Linked DNA regions of Homo sapiens: region 2 is linked to region 1. Evidence: fine-mapped expression QTL. A gene starts in region 1. The other region holds a variant in brackets. All regions are shown on one strand. Distances are between the middles of the regions.

Region 1 (15,546 bases):
GGAAAGGATATCCTCTTCAAATATATGGTACTTAGACAATTGGATATCTGTATGCAGAAGAATAAAACTGGACCCCTGTCCCTCACCATATACAAAAATCAACGCAAGGTCAACTAAAGACTTAAACATAAGACCCAAAACCCCTCATTTCAAGAAGAAAACATTGGGGAAATATTTGAAGACATTGGTCTAGGCAAAGATTTTATGGCTAGGACCTCAAAAGCACAGCAACAACAACAAAAAAATAGACAAATGGGACTATATTAAACTAAAAGACTTCCGTGCAGCAAAGGAAACAATCAACAGAATGAAGAGACCACCTATTGAATAGAAGAAAATATTTGCAAACTATTAATCTGATAAGGGACTAATATTCAGAATATACAAGGAACTCAAACAACTGACAATAAAAAACACATAATCCCATAAAAATGGGTAAAGGTCATGAATAGACATTTTTCCAAAGAAGACAAACAAATGGTTAATAGGTATATGAAAAAATGCTAAGCATCACTAATCACCAGAGAAATGCATATCAAAACCACAATGAGATTTCAACTTATCCCAATTAGAACTGCTATTATTAAAAGAGAAAAATGACAGATGCTGACAACGATTCAGAGAAAAGGGAATCCTTATATGTTATTGGTGGAAATGTAAATTAGTACAGCCTCTGTGGACAACAGTATAGGGGTTGTTTCTCAAAAGACTAAAAATGGAACTACCATACAATCCAGTAATCTCACTACCGGGTATTATCTACAGGAAAAGAAATTAGTATATCAAAGAGATACCCGTCCTCACATGTTTTTTTTTTTTTTTTTTTTTTGCGCACTATTCACACTAGCAAGGATATGGAATCAATCTACATGTCCATCAACAAATGGATAAAGAAAATGTGGTATGTATACACAATGAAATATTATTCAGCCTTAAAAAATGAAATCGTGTCATTTGCAGCAACATGGATAGGAGTGGAGGCCATTATGTTAAGTGAAATAACCCAGGCACAGAAAGGCAAATATCACATGTTTTTACTCATGTGTGGGAGCTAAAAAAGTGGATCCCATGGAGGTAGAGAATAGCATGAGAGATATCAGAGGCTGGAAGGATGTGTTGATGGGAGGAGGGGAGGAAGAGATGTTGGTTCATGGATACAAATGTACAGTTAGAAGAAGTAAGTTCTAATGTTCAATAGCAAAGTAGGTTGCCTATAGTCAGTAACAATGTACTGTGTATTTCAAAGTAGCTAGAAGAGATGACTTGAAATGTTCTTAACACATAGATATGATAAATACTCAAGGTGATGGATTCCCCAAAAACTCCAACCAGATCATTACACATTCTATGGATATAACAAATACTCATGTGTACCCCATAGATATGTAACATGTATCAATTTGTTTTAAAAGTTAGTCTAAGCAGGCTTCTTCAAGAAATAAATCCTACTTCCCTCAATGTTCTGAAAACTGGCCAGTGAGGGTGACCTGAATATTGCTGACCTGGCTTGGCACTACGCTTATGGTAGTGAGGGAAAGTCCCACTGTTTTGGCACATGGAGTAGCAGAACTGCAATCTCAGAGCTGCTTCTGAATGAGCTACTAAAGCAGTATTTCTCAACCCTAGGTGCATTCTCCAATGACCTGGCAAGTTTTAAAACACAGTGATGACGGGTCACCCCCCTACCACCCAGTTTTCACTTAATTGTTCTGGGGTTCATCCTGAGCAACAGCATTTTTTAAAAAAGATTAGCAGATGTTTTATTATGCAACCAAGATTGAAAATCACTCTAGTAAAAGATTCAGAATTCAATCTAATACTTTCATCATTTGGCGATAGTAGATGTGGCTTTCTGACCCTCACTTATGTTAATTTTTACGTTGTTGTTTGTAGTAATGAAAAATTACACTTGCGAAAGAGTAGTAGTTACCTTTGAATATAGGACGCTGAATAATATGCATGCAGTTCTTTCCCCTTTTCCACGCAAGGAGGAGCAGTATCAGAAGGTCCACTCACAATTTTCCAATTTCCTCTCTTCACTTTCTGGGAAAGGCAATGCCATTCCTTAAAATGCGTCACTCCTTGCACAACATACTTTGTTCCTGTTGTTTCATAATATTCAAAATTCGGAATATTTCCATGACTGTATCTCTTCTTTCTGTTCTACAAGGGGATCCCCTCCCCAGTTCTCCAGGCATCATGATCCTGCTGACCTGAGCAGACCACTGTTTCCAAGGGAATGACTCACTAGAAAGGCACTTGTCAAACTTTAATGCAAATATGATCACCTGGGGACCTCTTTAAAATGCACACTCAGATTCTTTAGGTCTAGAGGGAGGTTAGACATTCTGCATTTTTTCACAAGCTCCCAGGTGATGTCCACAGTGTCTATACCTTTTCTTTTGAAGTTATTCATAAGGAATCCAAATTAAATAACTGATAAAACTATGTCATTTATAGGCTGGGCATGGTGGCTCACGTCTGTAATCTCAGCACTTTGGGAGGCCGAAGCAGGTGGATCACTTGAGGTCAGGAGTTCAAGATCAGACTGGCCAACATGATTAAACCCCATCTTTACTAAAAAGGCACAAAAATTAGGCAGGGGTGGTGGCAGGTGCCTGTAATCCCAGCTACTTGGGAGGCTGAGGAAGGAGAATCGCTTGAACCAGGGAGCCAAGATCGCGCCACTGGACTCCAGCCTGGGCAACAGAGTGAGACTCAGCCTCAAAACAAAAACAAAAACAAACAAAAACAAAAAACAACTATGTCATTTATAGAAAGTTTTGTCTTCATAGTGTAGGGGTGAAAGAGCAGGCCTAAGCTTCTGCAATCACTTTGATTCTCTGAGTCTCAATTTCCTTTGTTAAACAGCAAACAAATAGGTTATACTTGACTCTGGTGGTAGTTTCCAACACTAAATAAGTCTTGAAGCTGTGTAATAATGGTAATATCACCACCCTATATTTAACACTTCAACTTCGGGAGCTCAATCTAAAAGTCTGTGTCAATGACATCGTTTTCTTGAATGGGCATTTGACTTGCTGTACACATTTAATACTTGAGAATGTATTATTTTGATAGGGAATTCAGTTACATTCAGCTGGACAGCCTCTTAAGGTTTTCAGTTTAGAAGGATTTCCTGAACATTCCTGAAGCTGAATGGCACCTGTTGTGCTATGTTACTTTTGAAAAATAGAACCTAATTTGTTTCACACATAAATAGGGCATTTATTATTGGATGACAGCAACTCTGAAAGGGCTGTCCACAGAGGTTTTGATGACATTTCACAACCTGCAGATTTGGAGAGGCTATCAAGAAAACATAATTCTCCAGGGCCATGAGGTGGGGTGGTGTAATCTTCACTTTGTAAGCCCACATCTGAACATCTCTTCTTCATTGTCTCTCCTGCAAACACCCAGCTCCTTTGAAGCTCATGGTACTTCACCATACCCTCTCCCTGTCCTTACTGCTGTCCTCACTGCTGTCCTCTACTGACTTCTAGTTTATTCCTTATGACTGCAGACTCTGGCTCCCAGTATATACATGGTCATCCTCTCTACCCTAATAGCTATCATGTTTTTCCTGGACTTTATCATTCAAGTGGATGAACCATTCAACTTCAGGGGCTCTTATTTCCTTGACTTACTCATTGGAGACAATGAATTTTTGCCTCTACCCCACCTCAGTCACTCACTGCCTGAAATCTCCAAGCACTGTCTCCAGGACTTCCAATAATCTTAGTTTAAATATTCACACTGATAATTCTAAACAGCAAAAGAAATCTGATCCGTTGACCTCTACCTCTCTAATTGCTTAATATCCTGCACTCTCCTTCAGCCTGCTCTGGTTTCTCTTTAAACCGAGGCTAGATTTGTAGTCACTCCCTTAAAAAGATCCTCAGCTCTCTTACTCTCCATCATATCTGCTTGGCAAAACTCTAGTCCTGGACCCAGCTATCCATTTTCTCTGTATCTGTATCCACGTTGGTGAAGGTTGCTGGAGAAAAACCAGAAAACTGAGCTCATTAGTTTCACCTTAAATTAACAATCACCAATTTTACCTATCAAAGACCAGTCTATCCACTTATGTCCTGGAGAGCCTCCCTTTTTGCTTCCCAAGGGGATATGGTTATGACCTCTTTCTGTGACATCTCAAACTTCACAGGTTCAAACCTGAACTTTTTCCACCCAGAGCTGGTCCCATTCGCCTGGAAATGTGTAAATGCCACCATTATCCACCAGTTGCTCCAATCAGAAAATTGGGAGTCATTCTTAAGTCCTTGCTGACCCTCACTTTTGACATAAAATCCTGCACCAATTCCTGTTCTCCAACATATTTCATAAATCCCTCTCCACCAATACCAGGCTAGTCCAGGTGTCTATCATCTCACCTGAACTCTGCAAACATTTCCTAATGGGTCAGCCTACTTTCTCTTTTGACCCTTTCCAAACATCTCCACAGCAGCTAAAATCATCTTAAAATGTAAATCGTCATAAAATGTCTCTCCTTAAAATCGGTGCTCCTTGTACTTAGAACTACAGCCATCTTCCTGACTATCACGTAAAAGGTCCTGAATGAGTTAGTCCCCGCTTCCCCTCTCTAACCTTATCTGTATATTGTCCACCCACAGCATTCTCTTCTAGAAAGAGAAAACAACAACCACTTTATGTACCTTGGGAGCTTTCCATATACTGTTCCATCTCTATAGCAGAATAATTCACTCAGCCCTTGTTAAATTTATTTTGTAATATTTTATATAATTGTTTCTTTACTGTTTACTATTTCCCCCATTGGACAATAAACTGCACGAGGGAAGAACCATGTTTGTCTTGTCCGTGATCACTGCCTCCACATTGGCTGGCAGTGTAACTAAGGATGCAATAAAAATTCTTTGTTATGGAATACATCAAAAAAATTCAGGACAAAAAGACATGTAATAATTCTCTAGATCAGATTTCTCTTTTTGCTGAAAACACATGTGGGCCCTTAAGGGGTAGGTGATTTATCAATGTTATTGTTATGTTAATGTCTCAGTTACCTCAATGTCCTGGTTTCTGGCCCAGCAGGGATAAATACATCTCCTGATGTCCTATGTCCTTTATCACGCCTGCAGTCTTACTCTTTCACATTTTTGGTGTATCTTCTTTCTCACTTTTCTAACTCATTTACAATCCTTTCTTTAAAAATTTGTCTTCACCTGTCCTGTTTTTTCAGTACTAAAATACAACTATGTTCATTCACCACATTTTCCATAGCACCAGTACAATAAAAAGTGACTTGGATAAAGCTTTTCATTTCCTTACTGCACAATTTGCTCAAGTTGTCATTCTCAATATTGTCTCATTTCCCCATACCCTGACAGAGTGACTAGCTAAGAGGCAGAGAGTGCAGCCATCCCAATGGCAGCACACATAGTTACTCTTTATGTTTCTAAACATCCTGCAAATTATTTAGGACGGGTGTTTTGTTTTGTTTTGTTTTGCTTTTCCATTAAATAGCCTCTAAGCTTTGAAGCAACCAAGAGAGAATCGGAGTAAAAAAATTATAGGGTTAAAGAAAGAAAAAATAAACAGATCAATAAAATGAAGAAATAATAAAGTGGAGAAAAGGAAGGATGGGGAGGTGGTTTAGAAAACAAAAAGGGTTCCAAGCAGCGGGGCTGTTAAAAGGACCAGAATCTAAGTCAGGAGGTTGGGGGTGGGGGTGGGGGTGGGGCAGGAGTCTGAATTCTTTTTCTCCTATACTGATGAGCGATAATTAACTATGGCCTGGACTGTCTTTCCATCTAAAAAACTAACTGCCCGAGGAGTAAAAACTGACACCAATCCTTCTCCACGGGGTGGGAGAGATAATAAATGGAAATCTTCCAACAAAAATGCTCTTTATCTCTCTGCTCTATTTTAAGAGCAAGATTTTTAGGGCATAATTTTCAACAAGTTTTGGCTGAGGCTGAACACAGGGTTCAAAGATAATTTAGGACAGTCAAAGAAGAGGCCAATTACTTTCTAACAGAAATGGCCTAAACACCACGATTACATTACTGGGAAATAAACCAAATGACTGCTAGAAATACCTGTTCGCAAAGCAGCACTGCATGATCTTCCATGAAATGCCCTGCATCAACCCAAAGTAGCAGGGAGACTATCAAGGGGGCGAAAGTAACCTGCCTGTCCTTTCCTGCTGGGACACATCCTACCTGGGACAATGTCTCCTTGCCTTCTTTCTCCTGGGCCCAACCTCAGGACTTGCCCTTAGCTCTAGGAACCAAGAGGAGGAGGAGGGGGAATCAGTGGAACAGACACCCTTCTCCACCCTTCTCACTTTCCACCTTAAGGTGCCAGGAGATGAGGGACCCCGCAGCTCAGGGCGGACGCCCGGTGAGGGCGCAGAATCGGGGAGGATGGATGCAGCGCGTGGCGCAGACTGCATCTTGACCCTCAACTCCGCCGCCGCTACCTTCTTTCGCGCTCCTCCCCGACCCGCTCACCTCCGCGCCCCCCGCGCCCTCCACGCCGGGCAGGGGCGAGCCTTGCAGCTCCCCGGGAGCGGCGCCGACTCCCCAAGGGCCCACCCGGGGGCCAGGGCCTACGGACTGCACCTCCGACTGGCGGTTGCAGGGTGGCTGCCGCGGCGGTCGCACTCCAGCTGCTTCCCCGCCTACCCAAGCTGGATCGCGAACAGCCAGGGGAGAAGGAAGGAGGGAGGCGCGCGGAGGCCGGCTTGGCAGCGACGCGCCGCTAGGGGCTGCGTGCCCGGACAGCTCGTGGCGCCGAGGGCCCGAGGAACGCTGACTGGAGTCGGGAAGAGCCGTGGAGCGCGGGGAGGAGTCGGGGAGCTCGGAGGGGGCGGGGGTGTGTGAAGGGAGCCGGGCTGTGTGGAGGGAGCTGGGAAGGGCCCAGAGCACCGAGGGGGAGCCAGCAGTGAGTGCACTGGGGAGCTCCACACACGCGGCTCCGCAGCTTTGCGCGCCCTTCTACCGCGAGCGGCTGAGTATCCGCCTGGCTCCCCTGCGGGGTTCCTCCGTGGTCTTCCGGAGATTCTTTCTGAAGCAGCTTTAGAATAGTCAAGCCTATTTTTCTACTCCATTTCTTTTTGTAATGTGGGGTCACCTTTCCGCTCTAGAAATTGCTTTTCTTACGCGATTCCCACCCCAACTCTCGCCAAGGGCCCTGGTTCTCATCTCCCCAGTCTTAGCTTCTGACAAGCCTCCAAGAAACTGCGCTTTTTTCTTTTGTAAGTGTTCTTTTGCCTCATGTTTACCCTATCCCAAACGTCTTTTGACTAGACTGTGTCCTTGGAATAAAATGTTCGGAAATGCCCTTTCATGAAAACTCCCTCGGATAGGAGGACCCTCACAGACCCTGGACTGCAGAGATTATTCTGTTGACTTTGACCTTCACTCTAGCTGGTGCCGCGCGAGCTTTGGTGTGGGGGAAAGGAAGGTTAGGCCGTGAGTCAGGAGACCTGTGTTCCTGCGAAAGCCATTTACCTTCTGGGGCCGCAATGGCTTTGAATGTTTCAGGGGATCCCCTGAGAGCACCTTTGGCTCTGGGTTTCTGTAAATTTTCTCCCTGCGGATTACCAAGTAAAAGTACCTTTTATCTTTTGTGTAGAAGGTGTCAGTAGAAGAAGCAAGAGATCTTTATTCCCAAATATAAAATCAACTTACCAAAAATTCTCAAATTTGGGGAAATTTTTTTCATACATTAGTAAAGTACCATTTCAACAAATTAAGTTTAAAAATTATCCCTCTAGGTGGTTTATTAACCAGACCAAAAAAACCCAACAACAACAACAACGAGAGGGGGGTCTTAGATCGATCACTGGGGCACTGCACTTTCCCCTTTGTAGTCCATACACAGATTAACCTTTGTAAATGCTGCTTTGGAAATACATCCTTTGTTTGACTTGAAATGTAACCCCTCCCCTACCGCCAAATATTATTAAGGTTTAAAGTTTAGGCAGAAGCTAAGGTTTTAACGATGTGTCAGGGTGTGGAACCATCGACAGCTGGTAGAATACTTTCCATTTTGGTTACTGGAAACAAGTCATTAAATCTAATATCAATTTTAATAATTTCACTTCAACAAAACTGTCAAATAATGAGATTCGTGGAGTTTTTTCTAGTAGTTCCTCTGGAGAACTTGTGGAGAAAATTCATGAATCTTAGCAGTTAACGGAAAGTATATTGCTTTTCCATATATTTTAAAAAACTATAGAATTATATAACTTCCCCACGGGGATATTAAAAGAAATTGCACTTTCTAACTTCTATAACCATAAATTATCATGTAAAACATGTAGGTAAGCCATATATTTTAAATATGTTTAAAAGCTCTCTTAACATGGGCTTTGACTATTGAGAAAATAGATAAAGTAATGTGAAATCCCTTTTCCTAAATGAGAATCAGTGAGTCAACAATTTGCAGCTTCCAAAAGGGATATCTCTTTTTCATGCTTGAACTATTAAAATAAACAAATATCTTTGATGGGAAATCTAATGTTACCAAATGTGTTCCAGAAGACTGTTGGTGTTAATGCAAAGCATGATTCCTTTAACTTCCATGGTAACTAATTTTATCATTGTTTTTCAGCTGGAGATGCAGAGTATGAAAATGATTTTGCAAGACTTTTCCAGGTCATGAGGTGCTCTCTGAGAAATCTCTTCTGTTCCCTAAAGTAGTAAGTGACTCAACTGAAGCGAAGCAATAATTATTAAATGGATCTCTAGTGGCCTAGGGGCATTAACACATTTTTTTCCTTTGAAGTTATTATACAATTAAATAACTTTAGAGTGGTAGTTCCCAAAATGTGTGACTTTAGGCACTAGTTTGCCTAAATGCTGCTCTAGCAAGTCATTCACTTCAAAAATATTGAGCCACTTCTATATGCCCTGGCTGGCACTCTAGGAACAGTGGTGAAGAAGACAGATATATTTACCTGTCCTGATAGAAGTTACAGTTTGGTGAAAACGATAAATTAGTAACAAGTGCAAATAAGATTTATGCAGATTTATTTACACAAAATAAATGTAAGTCGTGATGTAAATAGTAGATTTTGAGATAAACAATAAGAGAAATCTCTTCATTTTAGAGATCCACAATGTATGTTAATAAATTAAAGGCTCTGAAAATTCCTATGGTAAAAACATTTTACCTAACCTATTCCCCAAACCCCCAAATTTGTTTTGAACAAATTTGTTTGTAAGCAGTGCTTATAATAAAATAGAATAATTTTTGTGAAATGCTGCTTTGTTTTAAAACCAAAGAATTCAATAAACATGAAATTCTGTTAACATCACCTTACATTTATTTGTCAATGTACATTAATATACATCAATAGATTTATACATGTAAATATAATCTGAAGTAGACTGTGTTTGCACATGTTTATACCAGCGCAATTCACAATTGCAAAAAATATGGAACCAGCCTAAATGTCCATCAACCAACGAGTGGATAAAGAAAATATAGTATATATATACCACAGAATACTACTCAGCCATAAAAAGGAACAAAATAATGGCATTCTCAGCAACCTGGATGGAATTAGAGATGATTATTCTAAGTGAAATAACTCAGAGTGGAAAACCAAACATATGTTCTCATTCATAAGCTGGAGCTAAGCTATGAGGACACAAAGGCATCAGAATGATATAGTGGAGTCTGGGGGCTCCAGGGGGAAGTGGGGTGAGGGGTAAAATACTACGTATTGAGTACAGTGTACACTGCTCTGGTGATGGGTACACCAAAATCTCAGAAATTACTGCAAAAGAATTTGTTCATGTCACAAAAAGCCACCTGTTCCTCAGAAACTATTGAAATAAAAAATAAATTGTTTAAGTATGATTAAAAAAAGAAATACGCTGTGTTTGAACACAAAATGATACACAAGGATTTATAAATCTATTAAAATGCTTGAATGTACATCTGTACAAAACACATATTTATAATTAACATTATTTCATAAACATATTTCCAGAGATCAACATGTTCTAAAGTCTTATAATTCTTAATGGCTATATAGTTTATATATTGGTATAGACTAGTTTTTCCTTCCTTCCTTCCTTCCTTCCTTCCTTCCTTCCTTCCTTCCTTCCTTCCTTCCTTCCTTCCTTCCCTCCCTCCCTCCCTCCCTCCCTCCCTCCCTCCCTCCCTTCCTTCCTTCCTTCCTTCCTTCCTTTCTCTTTTTTTTCAGGGTCTGAATCTGTAATCCAGGCTAGAGTGCAGTGGCATGGTCAAGGCTCACTGCAGCCTCAACCTCCTGAGCTCAAGTGAGTCTCCTGCCTCAGCCTCCCAGAAGCTGGACTACAGGCAGGCACACGCCACCACACCCAGCTAATTATTTATTACTTGTAGAGAGGGGATCTCCCTAGGTTGCCCAGGCTGGTCTTAAATGCCTAGGCTCAAGTGATCTTCCCACATCACCCATCCCTCTCACAGTGTGCTGGGATTACATGTGTGAGCCACTGTGTTTGGCCTAGAATAGTTTTCTTAACCCTAAATTTTAGGAAAGTACATTTTCTGATTCTTTAACTATTATAAGTAACACTGCTTTAACCTCCTTGAACAAATTACTCTTTGGAGTAATAAGTGATGGGAATATTTTCTTGGGATATATTTTTTAATGTGGGTTTTTTAATTAAAAGAAATTTTATTTTTTCTGTTTACATAGTCTCATATTTCTTTCCATAACAATTGAAAAATCATTATAAAAATATGGATGTACTTTTATCTTTTAGATTCAGTATCTCATTGACACTGAATTTTATTATTTGTATTTGTTTAAGTTGATTAAGGAAGCTTTAAAATGTGTGTAATTTCAGTATACCCATAGGAAATAGCAAAAATACCTGGAGGAATTTGACTGGATAGCTTTGGTCATAAATCCATAAAGGGCCTCAAAGCTATTTCCCTCCCAATGTACCTCTCTGCGAATTCTTCTAAACTAATTTTGTGGTAATTTTAAAAAATTATCTGAAATTAAAAGAATTCTCAGAAAAGTTCTATAAGCATTGGCTCTAGATCTGCAGTTGGTATAGACCAGCAAAATTGACTGACGACCAATGTTAGAAAGAGGAACCAAAATTTGAATAGGGGCTCAGTGTAAGGACAGCTGTGTTTGGGGGATTCCTGTAGGAAGGGAAAACTTTTCAAGCATTTAAAAGGAATATATCATGGAAGAGTATCAGCAAGGGCTTTGGATTTCTTCATAGCTTTGAAGTAAGCAAGAAAAAATGGAGACAGTCAATCTGACCCATGTGCTTTCAGCATTTGATGACCTGGGCTGAATTCATGGATATTGCCAGCTATGGATTTTAAAATTAGAGTTTTTCTGATGATAATCAGATTCTACTTAAATATAAAAATATAATCATACCCTAGTGTCACAACATGTCTTCATATTCATTTTTAAATCTTCAAACACTGGTCAAGCCCATTCCCTCACTCAAAGAGCACTCAGTTCCTTCTGTCTATTGCTAAGGATTTAGTCTATGCATAGAACAGTGTTTACATTGTAGGTATTCTTGAGGATATTAGAGCTCTCTAGCAAACATTTAAAATGTATATTTTCAAATAAACAAATTATAAAACATTATAATCTTAACCATTTCATCAAATTTGATTCTGGATCTCATGGATGACCACCTTATAACTGAGTACAACCACGCAATTTCAGAGTCCCTGTTTTTTGCATTTATCATTGCATTGGTGTTGTATTAACCTGTCAGATCTTAATGAGAGAACTCTTGCAGCTGAATAAAAAGAGAAATAACCCAATTACAAAATGGCCAAAGAATCTGAATACACATTTCTTCAAAGAAGATATGCATGGCTAATAAGCAAACAAAAAACTGCTCAACATCCTTAATCCTTAGATAAATGCAAATCAAAACCACCTGAGATACCACTCACACCTACTGAGATGGCTATAATCAGAAAGTCAGTATCACAATATCAAGTCTTGGTGAGAAAGTAGAGAAATTGGCATCCTCATACATTGCTGGTGGGAAAGTAAAATGTGCAACTATTCTGGAAAACAGTTGGGCAATTTCACTCCTAGTTACATACCCAAGAGAACTGAAAACATTTTTACACAAAAACTTGCACTCAAATATTATCACAGCATTATCATAGTAGCCCAAAGGTAGAAACAACTCAAATGTCCATTAATTGATTAAAATGTACATGAAATGTATATGATCCCATCCACAAAATGAAACATTATTCAGGTATAAAAAGGGATTCAATACTGGCATGGATTACAACATAAACCTTGAAAAATTATGCTAAGTGAAAGGTGCCAGACCCAAAGATCCACATATTTTATAATTCCGTTTATATTAAATATTCAGAATAGGAAAATCATTACAGAAAATAGTTTGATAATTGCCAACCTACTGGCTGGTGGGGAAGAGTGTGGGGCATTGCTATAAAGGAATGCCTAGGCTGGGTAATTTATGAAGAGTTTTTGACTCAGTTCTACAGGCTATACAAGAAGCATGGCCATGGCACCAGCATTTGCTTCTGGTGAGGGCTTCAGGAAGCTTCTATTCATGGCAGAAGACGAAGGGGAGCAGGTTTCCCATGGCAAGAAAAGGAAAGAGAGGAGGGAGGTGCCAGGCTCTTTTTAACAACCAGTTCTCATGGGATTACTCCAGTAAGAATGGCACCAAGCCATTCATGAGGGGTCCGCCCCTCCATGACCAAAACACCTCCTACTAGGCCTCACCTCCAACACTGGGGATCAAATTTTAACATGAGATTTTGAAGGCACGAATATCTAAACTATATTAACTGCTTAGTGAGTGTGGGATTTCTTTTTGGTATGATGAAAATATTCTGGAATTAGTGATGATGGCTGCACAAGTTTGTGAATACGCTAAAAGCCACTGAACTGTACTCTTCAAAGGCATAAATTGTATAGTATGTGAATTAAATCCCAATAATAAAGAAAAATAGTAATCAGGAATTGTCTTAAGAAAAAACTTGAGAGAACAGATGTAGACTTAATTTGTAACAAGCCATTCCCTTAAAATGAAGACCAAATGACATTAATTTGTGCTGTGCCAATATATATTTAGCAGTTGACAGAAGAGAAAAACAAGTGGTGGGAGAAATTAGTCACTATCCCGCTCATTTTAATTTATGTATGTTAAAGCCAGAAGATCTACAGTTAAAGTCAATACCATATTCACATTACAAGGAACAATTTAACTTCTGTAAAACGGTATCATTCTTCACATTCGCTTGTCTGTTAACTTTTCTGTGAAATCCAGCTCTGCCATTTATCAGTTTTGGGACATTGGACAAGTTGTTTAACTTCTTCCAGTCTTGGTTGCCTCATCTATTAAATGGCGATAATAATCATGTCCAACTCATTGGGTTGTGAATATTAAATAAGTTGATAGATGTAAAGTGCCTAGTACTTATTATGTACTATACATGTTAGATATAATTTAACAATTTTGCAATTTGTTTTGGTTTTATAGTTGTGTGTAAACTGTAATCATAAGAAATTTATAATTCATTTTATATTTGAACATATTTATGCAAGTTTTAATTTAAAAATTTTTTTATTATACTTTTAAGTTTTAGGGTACATGTGCACAATGTGCAGGTTAGTTACCTATGTATACATGTGACATGCTGGTGCACTGCACCCACTAACTCGTCATCTAGCGTTAGGTATATCTCCCAGTGCTATCCCTCCCCCCTCCCCCCACCCCACAACAGTCCCCAGAGTGTGATGTTCCCCCTCCTGTGTCCATGTGTTCCCATTGTTCAATTCCCACATATGAGTGAGAATATGTGGTGTTTGGTTTTTTGTTCTTGCAATAGTTTACTGAGAATGATGATTTCCAATTTCATCCATGTCCCTACAAAGGACATGAACTCATCATTTTTTATGGCTGCATAGTATTCCATGGTGTATATGTGCCACATTTTCTTAATCCAGTCTATCATTGTTGGACATTTGGGTTGGTTCCAAGTCTTTGCTATTGTGAATAGTGCCTTAATAAACATACGTGTGCATGTGTCTTTATAGCAGCATGATTCATAGTCCTTTGGGTATATACCCAGTAATGGGATGGCTGGGTCAAATGGTATTTCTAGTTCTAGATCCCTGAGGAATCGCCACACTGACTTCCACAATGGTTGAACTAGTTTACAGTCCCACCAACAGTGTAAAAGTGTTCCTATTTCTCCACATCCTCTCCAGCACCTGTTGTTGCCTAACTTTTTAATGATGGCCATTCTAACTAGTGTGAGATGGTATCTCATTGTGGTTTTGATTTGCATTTCTCTGATGGCCAGTGATGGTGAGCATTTTTTCATATGTTTTTTGACTGCATAAATGTCTTCTTTTGATAAGTGTCTGTTCATGTCCTTCACCCACTTTTTGATGGGGTTGTTTGTTTTTTTCTTGTAAATTTGTTTGAGTTCGTTGTAGATTCTGGATATTAGCCCTTTGTCAGATGAGTAGGTTGCAAAAATTTTCTCCCATTTTGTGGGTTGCCTGTTCACTCTGATGCTAGTTTCTTTTGCTGTGCAGAAGCTCTTTAGTTTAATTAGATCCCATTTGTCAATTTTGGCTTTTGTTGCCATTGCTTTTGGTGTTTTAGACATGAAGTCCTTGCCCGTGCCTATGTCCTGAATGGTAATGCCTAGGTTTTCTTCTAGGGTTTTTATGGTTTTAGGTCTAACATTTAAGTCTTTAATCCATCTTGAATTGATTTTTGTATAAGGTGTAAAGAAGGGATCCAGTTTCAGCTTTCTACATATGGCTAGCCAGTTTTCCCAGCACCATTTATTAAATAGGGAATCCTTTCCCCATTGCTTGTTTTTGTCAGGTTTGTCAAAGATCAGATAGTTGTAGATATGCGGCGTTATTTCTGAGGGCTCTGTTCTGTTCCATTGATCTATACCTCTGTTTTGGTACCAGTACCATGCTGTTTTGGTTACTGTAGCCTTGTAGTATAGTTTGAAGTCAGGTAGCGTGATGCCTCCTGGCTTAGGATTTGGCTTAGGATTGACTTGGCGATGCGGGCTCTTTTTTGGTTCCATATGAACTTTAAAGTAGTTTTTTCCCATTCTGTGAAGAAAGTCATTGGTAGCTTGATGGGGATGGCATTGAATCTATAAATTACCTAGGGCAGTATGGCCATTTTCATGATATTGATTCTTCCTATCCATGAGCATGGAATGTTCTTCCATTTGTTTGTATCCTCTTTAATTTCATTGAGCAGTGGTTTGTAGTTCTCCTTGAAGAGGTCCTTCACGTCCCTTGTAAGGTGGATTCCTAGGTATTTTATTCTCTTTGAAGCAATTGTGAATGAGAGTTCACTCATGATTTGGCTCTCTGTTTGTCTGTTATTGGTGTATAAGAATGCTTGTGATTTTTCCACATTGATTTTCTATCCTGAGACTTTGCTGAAGTTGCTTATCCGCTTAAGGACATTTTGGGCTGAGACAATGGGGTTTTCTGGATATACAATCATGTCATCGGCAAACAGAGACAATTTGACTTCCTCTTTTCCTAAT
Region 2 (15,546 bases), 25 kb before region 1:
AATGGTAACACTAGATTAGGACTGGCAGCATTTGATTGTAAATCCTAGCCGAAGAGACCAAGTTTTGTTGAGAGTAGTGAGCATTTCTAGCACCTGTTTCCACACTTCTAGTCATTCTTCCGCTTTTCTCATCCTCAGCCCTCTGAAACTGTGAGATCACCAACACTTGGGGTCAAAGTCTATTAACATTTTTCAGTTCTCATCCTGTTATACTAGTCTGTAGTATTTTACACTGTTGACCCCTCTCCTCTTTTTACAACCCCCTTGCCTAGGCTTCCACATTCTTTTTGTTTTTCTTTCATCTCTACAGCTACTCATTGGTATCTTTATGGGCCCAGCATGCTTCTGCTGCACCACTCTGCTGCCTAGCTACTGATAGATATCTTTAGAACCATTCTTAGGCCTTATTACATCTAGAGGGCAGTTTAGTAGGTCTAAGGTTGCTTCCACCTAGGGAAAGTGCAAAGCATGTTAAGTGTTTTATTCATATGACTTAAATTGCTGTTACACAGTCCAAGTAAACCACATCGAAAGGAGACTGAAACTACTTGGATGAATACAATGGAATCCTGTGGAATGGCACCCCAAACCAAGATGGTGGCAGAGAGCTGACAATTGGATTATTTGCATATCCTTTGTGTGGTCATCCTAGCATCTCAGGATCAGGAAAGATGAAGAGGAGGGAGGGGAAAGGAAAAATTTCCACTTAAAGTAGAGCTTGCCTAGGAGACATCAACTGACTCTTGTATTTTAACAGCACAGGCTGAAGCTGATAAGGGTCTTTAAGCCTCAGTAACCTTAGACAGGCACCTTCCTCACTGGACCTAACTGAAGAGACTTTCCTGACTAGTGAACAATGGGATATTTATTTTATTTAACCAATGGTGTAGAGACCTATATATTCATTCTGCCCCATATCCAGAGTGCCAGTTTCCAATGCTTAATTAGCATAAGCCCCATAAGCTCCCCACTTCTAACATTTAAAAACCCCTGACTTTCCCTCCTCAGTGAAATTCTTCATGGAGTAAGTTCTCTTGCTTGGCAAGTTAATAGACTCAGCTTTGTAATTTTTTTTTTCTAGCTCTAACGGTATTTGTTTTACTCATGGACAGGTGAGAAGGACAAGGGTAGAGGAGTCTTCAAACACCCCACAGCCAGCCATCTTGGGTGAATTACTGCAGTTTTCGAAAGGTGCCAGCAGGTTTCCTCCCGCATAACATTTGCATTATGTTGTACATGCCACCGTCTTCAGATGGCTAATCCCTATGAAATTCAGTTAACATGACATTTTCTAGGAAACCTTTACATCCTTTGCTGTGTTGGGTGCAACCTTGTCTGTCATTCCGTTTTTGTACTCATCACATACTTAATGGTATCAACTGGTTCAGCAATTGGACCCCTTCCTACTGTACTGAGATTCTTGAGAGTCACTTTGATATGCACCCCAGACCCTCAGCATACTGTCTAGAGCAGTAGTTTTCAAAACCTAATGTGTATCAGAATCGTCTGGAGAAATAGTTAAAACAGAATCTCAAGCCCTACCTGCAGAGTCTCTGCTTCAGTAAGTCTGGGTGAGGCCCAAGGATATGTGCTTTTAACCAGTTCCCAAACAATGTTGATGCTATTGGTCTGGAGAACATACTTTGGGACTTCCTGGTCCATATCATACTAGTCACTCAAAAAATGTTCATTAAAAGATTTCAAGGATTATAAATTACTTTTTATTTTGATTTGAAGCCAAATTAAAGCATTTTGTAAGTTATCCAAAGTAAGGTAAATACTCCAGGTCCTTGCTACTCAAAATGGGGTCCTTGGGCTACTTGCACTGGCATTACTAGGGACTCTGTTAGGAATGGAGACTCTCTTGCCGCCTGGTGGACCTACTGACTCAGAATCTCCATTCTGAGATTCTGATCTCTCAAGATCCTCAGCCTCACATCAAAATTTGAGAAGCACTGCTCATGTGTGTGAGTGTGTGTGTGTGTGTGTGTATGTTTATGTGTGTTGTCATTATTATTGCTTTGGAGTAGTTTTAACAGCATCCATAAAACTGGTTTTCACTAATTATTCCATTCGTGGATTTTCCAAGTCCTTTGTTCCCAAATAATAGTGGGTTTACTTTTCTTCTTGGTAAGTGCACAAAGATTAAGCTTCATAAAAGCTTTAACTTTATATTTGGTATGTTGACTTAATTTTAATCATTATTTAGTGATTCTTCTGTTATGACACAAAAACACAGAAGGGTGAAAGGGTGAAATGACTACTGAAGGAGTAAATTATTTCAGCAAAAAGATAAATAGCAGAGAAACATGGGAAATGAGTTATACCTACAGAATAGAAATGCTTGAATGTGGTAACAATTCTACAGAATTTAATATCTCTGTTAAGTTACAAATTGCAATTTCTTAGTAGCACCTGTAGACTTAAAGATTAACTAGTAGTTTTAATAATATATTGACTTACAAGTTTTACTTTTAAAAGTAACAAAGAAAGCTAAAAATGTTTTAAAATAAATATATTGCAAATTGTGGTTCTATTTTCCTTCTGACTTTTTCTTGTTTGTACTCTGCCTAATTAGCAATGTTTAGTAAAATTATAATTATTTCTAATCATATGAATAATTATATATTCTTGAATTAAGAATATGTCTAATAAGTATTTGAGACTATATATGAATTTTATAGTCTCTAATGCCAGATGTTCTAAATGTGCAAGCAAATGTTATTCCTTTCTGAATTAGAGTAATTTATTTTAAATAAAGAATGTTTATAGCACATATGAAATCTAGTCATAGTTTTTAGTAGGTTAGCTTTAGGGAAATTCTGTAAGAGAAGAAATGCATACAAAACCAGAATTTATTATACTTAATTTTTTTTTTTTTTGAGACAGGGTCTCACTCTGTCACCCAGGCTGGGGTGCAGTGGCGTGATCTCTGCTCACTGCAGCCCTGACCTCCCTGGGCTCAGGTGATCCTCCCACCTCCCACCTTAGCCTCACGAGCAGCTGGAACTACAAGTGTGTGCCACCGTGTCTGGCTAATTTTTGTTGTTTTTTGTAGAGATGGGGTTTCACCATATTGCCCAGGTTGGTCTTGAACTCCTGGGTTCAAACGATCTGCCCACTTTGGCCTCCCAAAGTGCTAGGATCACAGGCGTGAGCCACCGCTCCCAGCCTATACTTCACTGTTTTAAAAAACTTTTTCAGGTTGACAGCACAGAAACAAAGCCTAAAAACAAAACAAAAGTAATTACCTCTTTCCAACAGAATCATTAATGTACATTTGGGAAGAATAAGCACGTGGAACAGAAAACGAAAGTAAAAGAATAGTCACCCCTGAAGACAACCATTCTAATGAAAAGTATACTAACAATAACCCAAACTGCAAGTGATTTTTAAGTAGGAAGCTGCAGGAACTACTCGTGTTTAGTGGAAAAGTAAACAAATTGAAAGTAAAAAAAATTAAAAGAAGAATTTATAAAGCGCTTTTACCCAAAGCTTCAGTTCCATGACATGGGAATAATTATATGAAAAAAAAATGTTCCCGAGATTTTAGAACAACTATTTATTGTGTTTAAATGGTGGGTAGTTATAGTGCAATAACCCCAGGATAGAACTGTCTTTGTTGTGGAGCAAGATTAATCAGACAGGTTTGTTCCAATGACATTAATTATTTGAGTTCTATATCTAAATTGACTTGTTTTGATTCTATGAACCTTGTATTAGTTTTTGAAGACTGCTGTAACAAATACCACAGACTGGGTGGCTTTAACAACAGAAATTTATTTTGTTACAGTTCTGGAGGCTAGAAGTTGAAGACTAAGGTGTTGGCAGGATTGGTTTCATCTCGAGGCATCTCTCCTTGGCATGCCGTCTTCTCCCTTTTACTTCACGTGGTCTTCCCTCTGTGCATGCCTGATTCCTAATCTCCTCTTCTTATGAGGACACCAGTCATACTGGATTAGGGCCCAACTGTATGACCTCACTTTACCTCTTTAAAGATCCTATCTCCAAATACATTCTGAGGTAGTGTGGGAGTTAGGATTTCAATGTATCAATTTTGAGGAAACACAGTTCAGCCCATAACAGATCCCAGTATCTTTTGAATTATAACTTCAATTCTTATAAACAGCAGATTCAAGAATAAAGTATGTTTAATCAAGGCACAAATGGTATTCTCGCCTACAGGACACTGATATTTCACACAGTAGTGCTGAGTTACTATTTTGATTTAACAGTGTATGACTGTACATTTGATCAATGTGAATCTGCCCCTGAGGGGTTTTTCTACTCTCAGGGGTCTCAACAAATCTGGATTTTGAGTCTGCAGGGTCCCGTGCCTGACTTTCTCAAAGTCATCATTTGTCTCTTGTTTCACTTCCCATTAGAAGAATCCACTACCAAAAGTACTGTACTAGTCTAGGTTCCCCAAGCCTGCCATAAACAAACAACACCAACACTCACCTGCTGCCACTCTATGGGGAGTACTATCTCTGAGAAACAGAAGTGAGGAAAAACATGGAAGTGAGGCAGTAGGAGAAGGGAACACAAACACAGGTGTTAGTGAGCTTGTCATAGCTTTGCAACAAGTGCAGTTAATTGCTCGGTCTTTGAGGATATTTTCATGAAGGTCTTATGAATTATTGCACTTTAGAACAGCCTATCTGGGGGAAAGGAAGGGAGAATTTATCTACTAGCTTCATTTTGTGCTGTACCTCCTTGATCAAAGTTCACTCCTTAAGTAGGGTTGCCAGATTTAGAAAAATTTTAAAAAGCCCATGCTTATAATAAAAAGTAATTTATTGTTTGTCTGCAATTCAAATTTAACTGAGAGTCCTGTATTTTACCTGACAATCCTCCTCTCAGGATATTAGCACCTAAGCATTTCCAGGCAGCAGCTGGGGAAGCCAGAACCTCCACAGACAGATCTGGTGCACAGGCACAAAGGTCAGTTACTCCTTGTCAGTGGCACAGTGTACAGGACTCCTCAACATATAGCAGTGTGGTGGTGGTGGTAGTGGCAGCAGCAGCAGAAACTCTTTAGGACAACAGGGTAGCGCTAGGCCACTGGCCAGGAGGCAAGGCATGAGGAAGAGGCAAGAGGATGTAGGCATGGCTGCATGGATGCGGGATGATAAAAAACATAATTTTCTGTAAAAATGGGTAATTATTTATTATAATATCTCTTTAGTATCCATCATAGATCACATTATACTAGATACTGGGGATTTAGTAGTAAATAAGACAAAATTTCTGCTACGGGGAGTTTACAGAATAGCTTGAATATTGTGTGTGTTCTGATTTAAAGATGCTTAATGAATGCTAGTAAAATGAAATAATGTAATAAAATAAATGTAAATGGAGGTTTTTCTAAATGACTATTTTAGTAAAAACAAACAAAACCCCTCCATAACTATCACATGTATTGCTTTCTGGATGCTTCTGAAAAGAAATAACTCAGAAAAGTATTAGAAGGCCTCCATCAAATACTAGAATTATTATTTAATGAGAAAAAAATCCACGTGTATACAACATTTCAAAACAGAAGTTAAATCATTAAATAGTACTTTTTATTTAAATGTTTATAAGGCAGATCTATGAGAATGATAGAAAACATGGTGTGTAATTTGATAGCAATATTTTGGAGATTACAGAGTTTTAGTAATTACCAATTACACAGTTAAAAAGAAGATAATATATTCCAAGCAGATACAAAATATCTAATGAAAGATCAAGGCAGGAAAATGAGTATAACTAATTGACAATGGAAAATCAATTTTAATGTGAATTGCACATTATCCTTTAAAAGCTTTCAAAAGAAAGAATTATTGCAGTCTAGTTAATTCAGACAGTGTTAAATGGTATCAGGATAAAGAACTGAAGGGCAGAAAGAATTAATTTTCACTTCATGTAACACACCCAGATTTACAATGGCTTAAATGCAGGAAAAAGCAGTGGAAGTAGGGAAGTAGTCAAGGTCTTTCTGGTCTCTAATCTGCCTTACTCTTTGGGTGTGGCTTTGATCCTCTGGAGACAGCTGCCAGGGCTCCTGTTATATCCACAATCCCAGCAGCAAGATGAAGGGATGAAAAAGGACACATGCTGCCTTCCTTTGAGGAGACTTCATCTCACTGGCCAACACTCAGTCACATGTACACCTAACTGCAAGGACAGCTGAGGAATGTAATGGGCAGCCGCTTTTAAAGAAGTAGAGTCAATAGGAAGACAAATTCCAGTTCCAGCTCAGTCTGGGTATCTGCAAAGCTGCAAAAGATCTTTAAAGACAATTTCAAGAGAATATTTCCTTAAAGTTGGCAATTTGGAGATCATACAAAAGCATCTGCTTTTGTGATTTAATTTAGCTCATCTGGCCACTGGAAGAATCCAAACAGTCTGCCTTAATTTTGGATGAATGCATGATGGAAATTCAATAATTTAGAAAGTTAAAAAAAACTCAGTATGTTAGGCTGAACAAAACATTTTTTAGTAACATATGGAAAGAATCTCTGAAAATTAAGCACTGTATAATTTTCTCATACTAAAAAAAAAGTGAAGAACCCATTCATTCATGTAAAATTCACTGTTTAAAGGTAAAAACAGATTGAGTTTCCACTGAAATTATTACAGTTTCATTTAGGGCTAATCATTTGTCCTGAATGTACATCAGAATTTGTTTTACCCACTGATGAACAATTGAAGGTAGGGTGTCTCATTTCACAATATAAATCTTAACACTGTGAGGTGTGTTATACTATGTATGTATCTTGTTTTAAGTCATGGATTTACAAAATAATTTCAACACATTTTAGGCTGTTTACGTATTTCAAAACAGGGATTTCATAGACTGACACAGGAATAATTAGTTCAGTGTTCACAGTATTCCTAAATAAATATTTACTTATTACATTTATGATACTTTATTTAAAATACCACATTAGAAACTTTAAATATTTCATAAATAAATCTCTTTTTTGGGGGGAAACTGTACAGAATTTATTATGAAATAGCTTAATGGCAAGTGGTAATTTAGAAGAATTAAGTTATCAGATAGGAGATATATTAAAATATTTAAAAATTGGATATATTCTTGAAGCCCTTTTACACAAGTAATTTCTATAATTTGATTGTAATGAAAGTATAATATACCTTGTTACTATTATCAGATTAATTTTTGAAAGTAGAATTCCTTAATCAAGCCAAGGTTATGCTGCTTTATAAGAAATTAATCAGGTAGTTTAACACTAGAGCTCATTAGCCAACCTGTATGTAGCACAAAATAATCATCTCTGATAAATACCTATAAATATATTTTATTCATACTTTTAAATATTTTACAATTCAAATAAAAACCTTATATGTAGACAATCTGGGCTAAATTTCCATGTATGTTTTGAAAAATAATGTTAGCATGAATAGATTCATATTTAAATATGATTTTAAATACTCTTAATAGAGGAGACATAAGAAATATTTACATAAAAGCTAAGTAGCATGATACAGCTCATGGTTATTTTCCTCATAGGAAAACAATTACTTGATTTTTTTTTTTGCATAGGATTAAGACTGAGTATCTTTTCTACATTCTTTTAACTTTCTAAGGGGCACTTCTCAAAACACAGACCAGGTAGCAAATCTCCACTGCTCTAAGGTTCTCACCACCACTTTCTCACACCTAGCAATAGTAGAATTCAGTCCTACTTCTGAGGCCAGAAGAATGGTTCAGAAAAATAATGATTATAAAAAATAACAATTAAGAAAAATAATCACATAGAGGTAAAATAAAGCAACTAAACATCATAGTTTTGCATTTTTAGAAAAGCATTTAAACATTTAGAATTATAGTAAATATATTACATTTATTCTAAAACTTCAAAATTATTCTGTTTTTGTAGTACTGAAAAGAAGATAGTGCCATTTGAAACAACAGATGCATCTTTTATACATTTTCACAAGTTTGTTTTTCATATTTTTAAAGGCCCCATTTATCTGTAACAGTGGTATTTTTATTTAGAGTATCGGCTACTTAATATATACATGCAACAATATATGCTTTAATAGTCATTTAACTTTTAGGAATATTTCATCACATTAAGTGGTTAAGCATAGTGTTAAAAGAGTGGAATTTAAGGAATAAGAAAATATTGAAAATACGCTGTTATTTTCATT[A/T]GTTCACTATAATAGAATGTTTTTGCCCATAAAAGTTATCATTGCCCAACTGAATTCCTACCAAGAACTAACAAGTGATTCTCAAGTGGGGAGAAATATTATTAAAATAAAGAAAATAGAGGGCTCAGTTAGAAAGTACAAGATAATAGGCCGGGCGCGGTAGCTCACACCTGTAATCCCAGCACTTTGGAGGCCAAGGCGGGCGGATCACGAGGTCAGGAGATCGAGACCATCCTGGCTAACACGGTGAAACTCCGTCTCTACTAAAAATACAAAAAGAAATCAGCCGGGCATGGTGGCGGGCACCTGTAGTCCCAGCTACTCGGGAGGCTGAGGCAGGAGAATGGCGTGAACCCGGGAGGCAGAGCTTGCAGTGAGCCGAGATCGTGCCACTGCACTCCAGCCTGGGTGACAGAGCAAGACTCTGTCTTTAAAAAAAAAAAAAAAAAAAAAGAGGGTACAAGATAATAAAATTCACCAAGAGAACATTAGAAAATCATAAGTGAATTACCAAACTGACAAGGCAGTTGTAGAAAAAGAGTCACTGGTGGGAAAGGTAGCCTCTACTAAATAAAAGTCTTTTTATTGTTGGCAGTTGGATTCAGTAGTACCTACGTGGGTAAGTTTAGAAATGTTATAATTTCAGGAAGAGGAACGCATATAATTGTATCTTGCCTATAATTTTCTATTTTAATAAGGAAATAGCAAATTGGGGTGGGGGGAATGTAGGGCATTCTACAGTTTGAGCAAAATGCAATTAAATGTGGAAGGACAGCACTGAAAAATTTTATGAATAATCTGTATGATTATATGTCTCTAGAGTAGATTTATAATTAGCCACTTACCCTAATATCCTTCATGCTTGTAAAGTACTCCCTAATGAATGGTTATGCAGGCAGGAGAACTTCTCAGGAAGAGAAAAGGAGAAGACTAACTCTACAGAGATTTTTGAAAGACTCCGTGGGATCTCAGCAATTTGTTAACACTGCTAGGGCCCTTCACTGCATAGGGAGGCATATGGACTGCCATGGGTCTCCAGGCTCATGTTCCAAGCAAGAATAGGGTAAGTAACTGTGAATTACCCTACAAGCAGTAATAAGTTTATTATAATAATATTTTTATACATTTTTGGATGCACCCAACCCACTCTAAAGAATGTCAGTGACTTTATACAAAAGAGGAAGCATCTAGATTGGCATTGTGAACATAATGCATAGGGGCGCGGCGGGAGCTCTAGAGCCTAGTGGTTAAAACCGTGGCCTCTGGAATATGACTACCTGGACTTGAATGCTCACTCTGCCATTTATTAACTGCAAGACCTTTGAAAAATAACTTTTCTATCCTTCGGTCCCTCATGTGTAAAATGAGGATAATAACTACTTATCTCACGGGGTTGTTCTAAGTATTAAATGGGATAATACAAGTAAAGTACTTAGAACCATGCCTAGCACATCAGAATCCCTCAAAGAACATCAGTATAATCCTATACCATAGCAAGTGGTGACTGGTTAAGGTGCGACAAAGGTCAGCTGGCAGATTACTTGTGTGCAAACTTGATACTTTTGTTCTAAGTAGGAACTAGTATACAGTTCCTAGGATTGGTACCGTATTAGAGATAGCAGTTTTGGAAGCCAAATGTTACTGAATCCTCTTCCTGATCAGTATATTAATATGAAAATGAAACTGCTCTGTAACACAATAAAGAATAAAATCTTTCATGAGGTATGTATTATCAGTATGTATTTCATGTCTCAAATATATTTTAAATATAATTTCAGGTTTAATTTGTCTTTTTAATTTGTGTCTCTTCATATAATCACATTGCTTCATACAATTAATTTCATCCTTCAAATCCTATTTTATGAGAGAAATATAGGAATGCTATCATGCAGCCTTACCTAGATGCTAACATAACGTGTCCTTTCTTAAAAAAATGTATAATAATGCATTTCTACTTTTTAAGTTGAATAATTAAAATCTTAATCTTCAGAAAAAAATGTATATCCATTGAATTATTTTAAAAGCTTAAAATTCTGCTGGTTTGCAAATTGTTTTTAACATTATATCTATATTATTAACTGTAAGTATTTTTGCCTGATTATGAAATATAAAGTAACAACAGGGTTACAGTTGTGCAAAACAAAACAAAACATACCTAAATTACAATAATATGTTGACTAGAAAAATTCATATTGGCAAACATGACATTTGTGAAAATTAACTTGAAGAAAACTCTATCACTAAGTCAGTTGAAATCTCATTTAACAAGTTTCAACCCACGATAATTTGACAGCATACTTGTAACTGAACGTAGAAGTCATAAAAATAATGGCATGAGTAGAACTTTATATGGCAGCTGTGAACACCATTTGTCATCACATTACTGTGACCCTCTCCGGGGAGACATGAGGAATTGTTCCTCCCATACCTTCTTCCAGAAATTGGCTCTTTTCCCAGCCTTTTTTAATTCGTTTTAGCTTTCGGCTTATACATGGAAGGAATAAAATAATCTTACCCAGAATTACAATTGAGGGCAAAACAAGAGCAAGAACAAAGTTTGGTGGTGTATAAAATCTGTAGTACTCTTCCTCAAAAGCTCGTTTCCATCCATAAATTAAAACATGGAAAGTACTTATGAGCAGAGCGACATATCCAAGTGTAGACTTGGGCCAGGAGAGGAAGGAAAAGAAACAAAGAATAAGAAACAAATGACTGAAACTCATAAATTAAACTATCAAGATACACCATGTTTATATTTTGATAAAACTATTTTGTCTTAAATTATCAAGTTAACCTTTGTCCTCTACTGAATTAAATAATATTAATATTTTTATATATGCATATATATGTATTATTTATATGCACACCTTATGTTACACAAATAAGGCCCTACTGCATACAGTTTAATATTCTTACTACTTCATTTATTTTATCAAGAACATTTTCCTCATGTCATTAAATATGAAAATGACATTAATACTGTATAATATTCTATTGAATGGATGTGCATAATTTATTAAACCATTCCTTTTTGTTGATAATTCACTGTTTCCAACTTTCCTCAACTATAAATGTCATGTTAGGCCATTTTCCATATTTTGATTTATTTTCTTAGGACTGGTTTCTAATAGTAGGATTATTGGTCAAAACATCTAGCTTTTCCTTAAGGGTACTGATACATACTGCTAGACTCTTCTTTATAAAAATTATTCACATTCCCACCAGTTGTGTATTAAAGAAATGTGTATGTATGTGTGTGTGTATACACATACACATAAATATAGTCATGTGCCACATAAGGGCATTTTGGTCAACTATGGACTGCATATACAACGGTGGTCCCATAAGATTATATGCCTTATTTTTACTGTACCTTTTCTCTGTTTAGATATGTTTAGATACACAAATATTTACCATTGTGTTACAAGTGCCTGTAATATTCAGTACAGTAACATGCTGTACAGGTTTGTAGCCTGGGAGCAATAGGTCATGGTTTGTATAAATATGCTCTATGATGTTCACATGATAAAACTGCCTAACGACTCATTGCTCAGAACGTTCCCTACTGTTAGGTAACACATCACTGTTAATACATAAACAGACATATGATAAAATTAAATAAACTAATTTAAAATTATTAAAATTAATTAAATTAAATTAAAATTAAATGAGCATCCTCATGGGCACACACACATATATACACACTGGTTAATAGGCAAATATGAAAAATCCTGCAGTATTAATATAAACAACAATTAAAATATAGAGTTTATTAAGAATACTTCAGTTAGGCACTTTACAGTTTAAATTCTAAAAGCTCATCATTCTTTAGTTCGCTAAATTATTATGTTTAAGAGTGCTTACTTTGAAGAATAGTCTGTTATATAAAAGTAATATTACATCAGTATAGTGATGTAATGTCTAACTTTACTGGAAAATATCAACCCTCCAGCAGGCAAAATATTTGCAATTACTCATCTAAATTTATAATGATAATTTGCATCTGTCTAGAACCTTCTATTTCTTTTCGGGTATGATTAAACTAGCTGTTGGGAAAGTACTCTCCCTTTTCTTCAAAAAGGAAAAATAAATTCAGATAAGCATTTTGGCCCTGCTTTGAATGAGATTTTTACAGGACCTTAAAAAAAAAAACAAGCAAATAAGCAATGAATTGAAACAAAACTTAAGTGTACCACCAAAGGACATGAATCTGTCTACTATGCTGTAAACCATTTGGATACAACCAGTACAGATTTTGTGAAAATATAGGAAGGGTCTATGTTTCAGTTATATATTTTTAAAATATGCAACCTTATTATTTAGATATTATTGGAGAAGGTGAATGTTTAACTTATTAAAGAATACAATGGTGGTTTGAAATCCCTTTACAGACATCCATACGTATTAGTATACTACTGATATACTAACAAAATTCTTAAGGCTGGTTGCATGTTATAATCCATTACTCTAGTTACCTAGTTTGCCACTGCTTGTGTTTGTATGTGTGTGTATATATACACACATTTCTTTAAAATATTCAGATTGACATCCCCACTTGAGTTCAAATTAATAAGATTTTTCTGGACAAATCAAGATGACTCAAAACATAAAATAATTTTTCATTCACTTGGCTAATAATAAATTGACTTTCAACATTAAATTTGATCTAAGCTCATCCTTCCCAACTTTCATTTTTTTTTTCTCTTTTAAGATAACTTTTTTGTTCTTAACATAGTATACTGGAAGGCAGTGCTGTCAAAGTCTTCCAGTACAATCATATACTGACTGGTCTTTCACTTATTTAACCAGAGCAATCCTAAGCTGGCTTCCAGCATAATGTATCTAGATGCATAAATACAGCCTCAAAGGCACCCTTTTAATAAGGAACATATTTAAAATGCAGTTGTTCTTAACAAGGAAATCCTATCCTGCACAATCCTTCACCAAACAAAACCCCACATACCTGAATAAAACTGAATTCTCTCCAGTTTAAAGCATTGCTCACTGAAGGGATAGAAGTGACTGCCAGGAGGGAAAGTAAGCCAAGGCTCATTATGCCAAAGGAGATATACATTTCAATTCTCCAAACTTCTTCCTCATTCCAAGAGTTTTCAATATTTGCATGAACCTAACAAGAAAGCGAATGTGAATTTCCTTTATTTAGTAGAACATTAACTGATTCAGCACAGAGTTCACTCTTGGCATAAGAAGAACCTGGTCATATATGGACGTATTTAAGTTGTACTAATTTAGTCTAACAAACCATTACAGAGAACCTGTTACTGGATGATACTGCTCCAGGTGTAAGGGAAAAGAGAATTAAACAAAAGGAGGACAAAACTTTCTCTTTCCTTGTATACGTGCTAGAATAGAGGGGCAAAGCTTTGCCATCATCATTACAGGGACTCTGGAATCCAACACCATAAAATACCTAGTAGTTGGTTCTAGGGTGACACAAAAGAAGTTACTGACAGTTAAACTTAGTTTTGAAGTACTATTACAAGCTGGTTTAAACTTGGTTGAATATCTGGGATATAGTCTGGCCTTAGTTCAACTTGGATCCGGTCAGGGAATTTCTAAACTATGTCAGTATCTTCTTCCATCACATGAATAATATATCTCTGTTTTATCTTTCTTCTCATCTTCTCTTCCTAGAAAGCTGTGATTTCCCTAGCTATAAAGGCCAATGGAGCTCATTTATCCACTTGAACTGCCTCATTTAATATGATCCCCAACTATCCAATTGTGTCATTTATATGCAGTATTTTTTCCAAATGTCTTTTCCTTACATTGATAATGTGTATATAATCAAGTCAGACGGTGAACTCTGAATTTGTGGTATTTTGTGTAGGGACTACCTTTAGAAGTTCTATTTACATTCAGAATATAATTAGAGTATAAATCAAGTATTGGACTCCTTCAGCTGAAATTTTTGATTTAAATAAGTATCTATTAATGGAAAACAGATTCTAACTTAACAACAGTTTAACTTTGTCCAATTCCAGTTAACAAAACATACTTGAAATTTAACAACGAAAAGCTGCTTCTTAGCTATTAGTTCCCTAAGGCAATCATACCATCATCTTGAAAGAGGCCACAGAGTTCTTACCATCTTCTTATTTGATATCTATACAATACAGAAAAACAGCACTACCCAGTGTACTCGGAGACTACAACCTGGATCTACCTGCTCTCCCAGTTCATTCATTCATCCACAAATGGGCTGTTTGAGTGTCCACAATGTCTAGGCTCAAATCTAGGCACTGGGTATGCATCAGTGAAAAAGATAGACAAAGATCCCTCTTCTCATGAACTTACTTTCTGTTGGGGGAAGGCAGACACTGGTAAATGTATTTTTAACATGGAAATCAAGTGTGTTAGAAGATGGTAAGTGTTATTAAAAAAAGAAAGGTAGAGCAGGGTAAGTCAGAAGGATTGGGAATACTGGTTGGGGCAGAGGCAGCGGCATTTAAGATGGTATCCAGCATAGGACTCGCTGAGAAGGTGAGATCTGGGCAAATGACTGGAAGGAGGCAAGGGAGCTGACTGAGCAACAATAAAAGCCTTAGTATCCCATTAAGAGAAGTTTTTTTTCAGGGAGTGAATGGTTTAAAGGTTATCAATCTACTAATTAGAAAAATATTATTTTAGGTTTTATTGTTGAAACAAGCTTAAGTACTAGATGCCACATACTTGGACTATGATGCCTTCGATCCTTACAAAATGCAGATGCTTTTACACATTTGTTTTGGTGCAATGTTCTTGGCTTTCATGGAGAAATGCTACACCAAACAGCTTCAGGGAAACCCCTTAAATTACATTTGTGGATTGGGAATTATGGAGGAAAACCATAGTCTACCTCATAATCAAACCCCTTCCATGAAGTGCTCCCTGAGATTTTTTTTTTTAGAGCTAAGTGCTAGAAAAGCTTCACCTGTGGAACTATTATCTTTTCTGGTTTTTGATAACAAGAGCTTTGTAAATAATAGGGTCTCCCTTCTCATTGTATTGAAAATCTCAAAGCCAAAAGAGAAGCTGTGGAGACACTCTTAGCAGAGGTGTATTCGACTTTTTTCTCCTGATCTTGTCTTCCTGTTCTGTTTTGTATTTTTACTGGTTCTAATTTTATTGTATATATTTACTGAGAATTGCCTCATCATTTTGTGGAGCACAGCCAATTATAAAACATTAAAATAATGAATTGTTGAATACTGAAAGCACTCATTGCAATTATAACATTGAAAAAGGGGGAGAACCCAACCCTCTATTTTTCTGCTTTTATTCTGTATGGAAAAGGATGGTAGCAGCCTTTACTTAAATAATTTTGAATTAGCCACCTAATTATTTTGCAAAAACATTGTTTAAAGAACAATTCTTTCCCCT

Direction of the effects. Positions count from the first base shown, and alleles are read on the strand shown. Sizes are in standard deviations (SD) of each study's normalised expression.
In carriers of allele T in region 2, the expression in ovary of the gene that starts at base 6,794 in region 1 tends to be higher than with A alone (moderate effect, 0.72 SD a copy in GTEx).

What was found.
Region 2: its variant is fine-mapped to the expression of STEAP2 in ovary (GTEx, PIP 0.93).

What each region holds. Positions count from the first base shown.
Region 1 is chr7:90,202,988-90,218,533 of GRCh38, reverse strand. STEAP2 (STEAP2 metalloreductase) reads right to left here and starts at 6,794. Exons shown (of 6, transcript NM_001244944.2): 1 at 6,489-6,794; 2 at 1,931-2,043. STEAP2-AS1 (STEAP2 antisense RNA 1) reads left to right here and starts at 6,899. Exons shown (of 3, transcript NR_110029.2): 1 at 6,899-7,234; 2 at 8,596-8,683. RefSeq lists a silencer at 6,632-6,691.
Region 2 is chr7:90,227,617-90,243,162 of GRCh38, reverse strand. STEAP2 (STEAP2 metalloreductase) reads right to left here. Exons shown (of 6, transcript NM_001244944.2): 5 at 13,127-13,291; 6 at 5,480-10,826. The coding sequence ends at 10,539. LOC107986819 (a long non-coding RNA gene) reads left to right here. Exons shown (of 2, transcript XR_007060423.1): 2 at 1-5,576. Among named protein-coding and RNA genes, the nearest start is that of CFAP69, 9.8 kb to the left of the region's middle. RefSeq lists a silencer at 8,398-8,603. The variant A/T (reference allele first, on the strand shown) is at 8,164.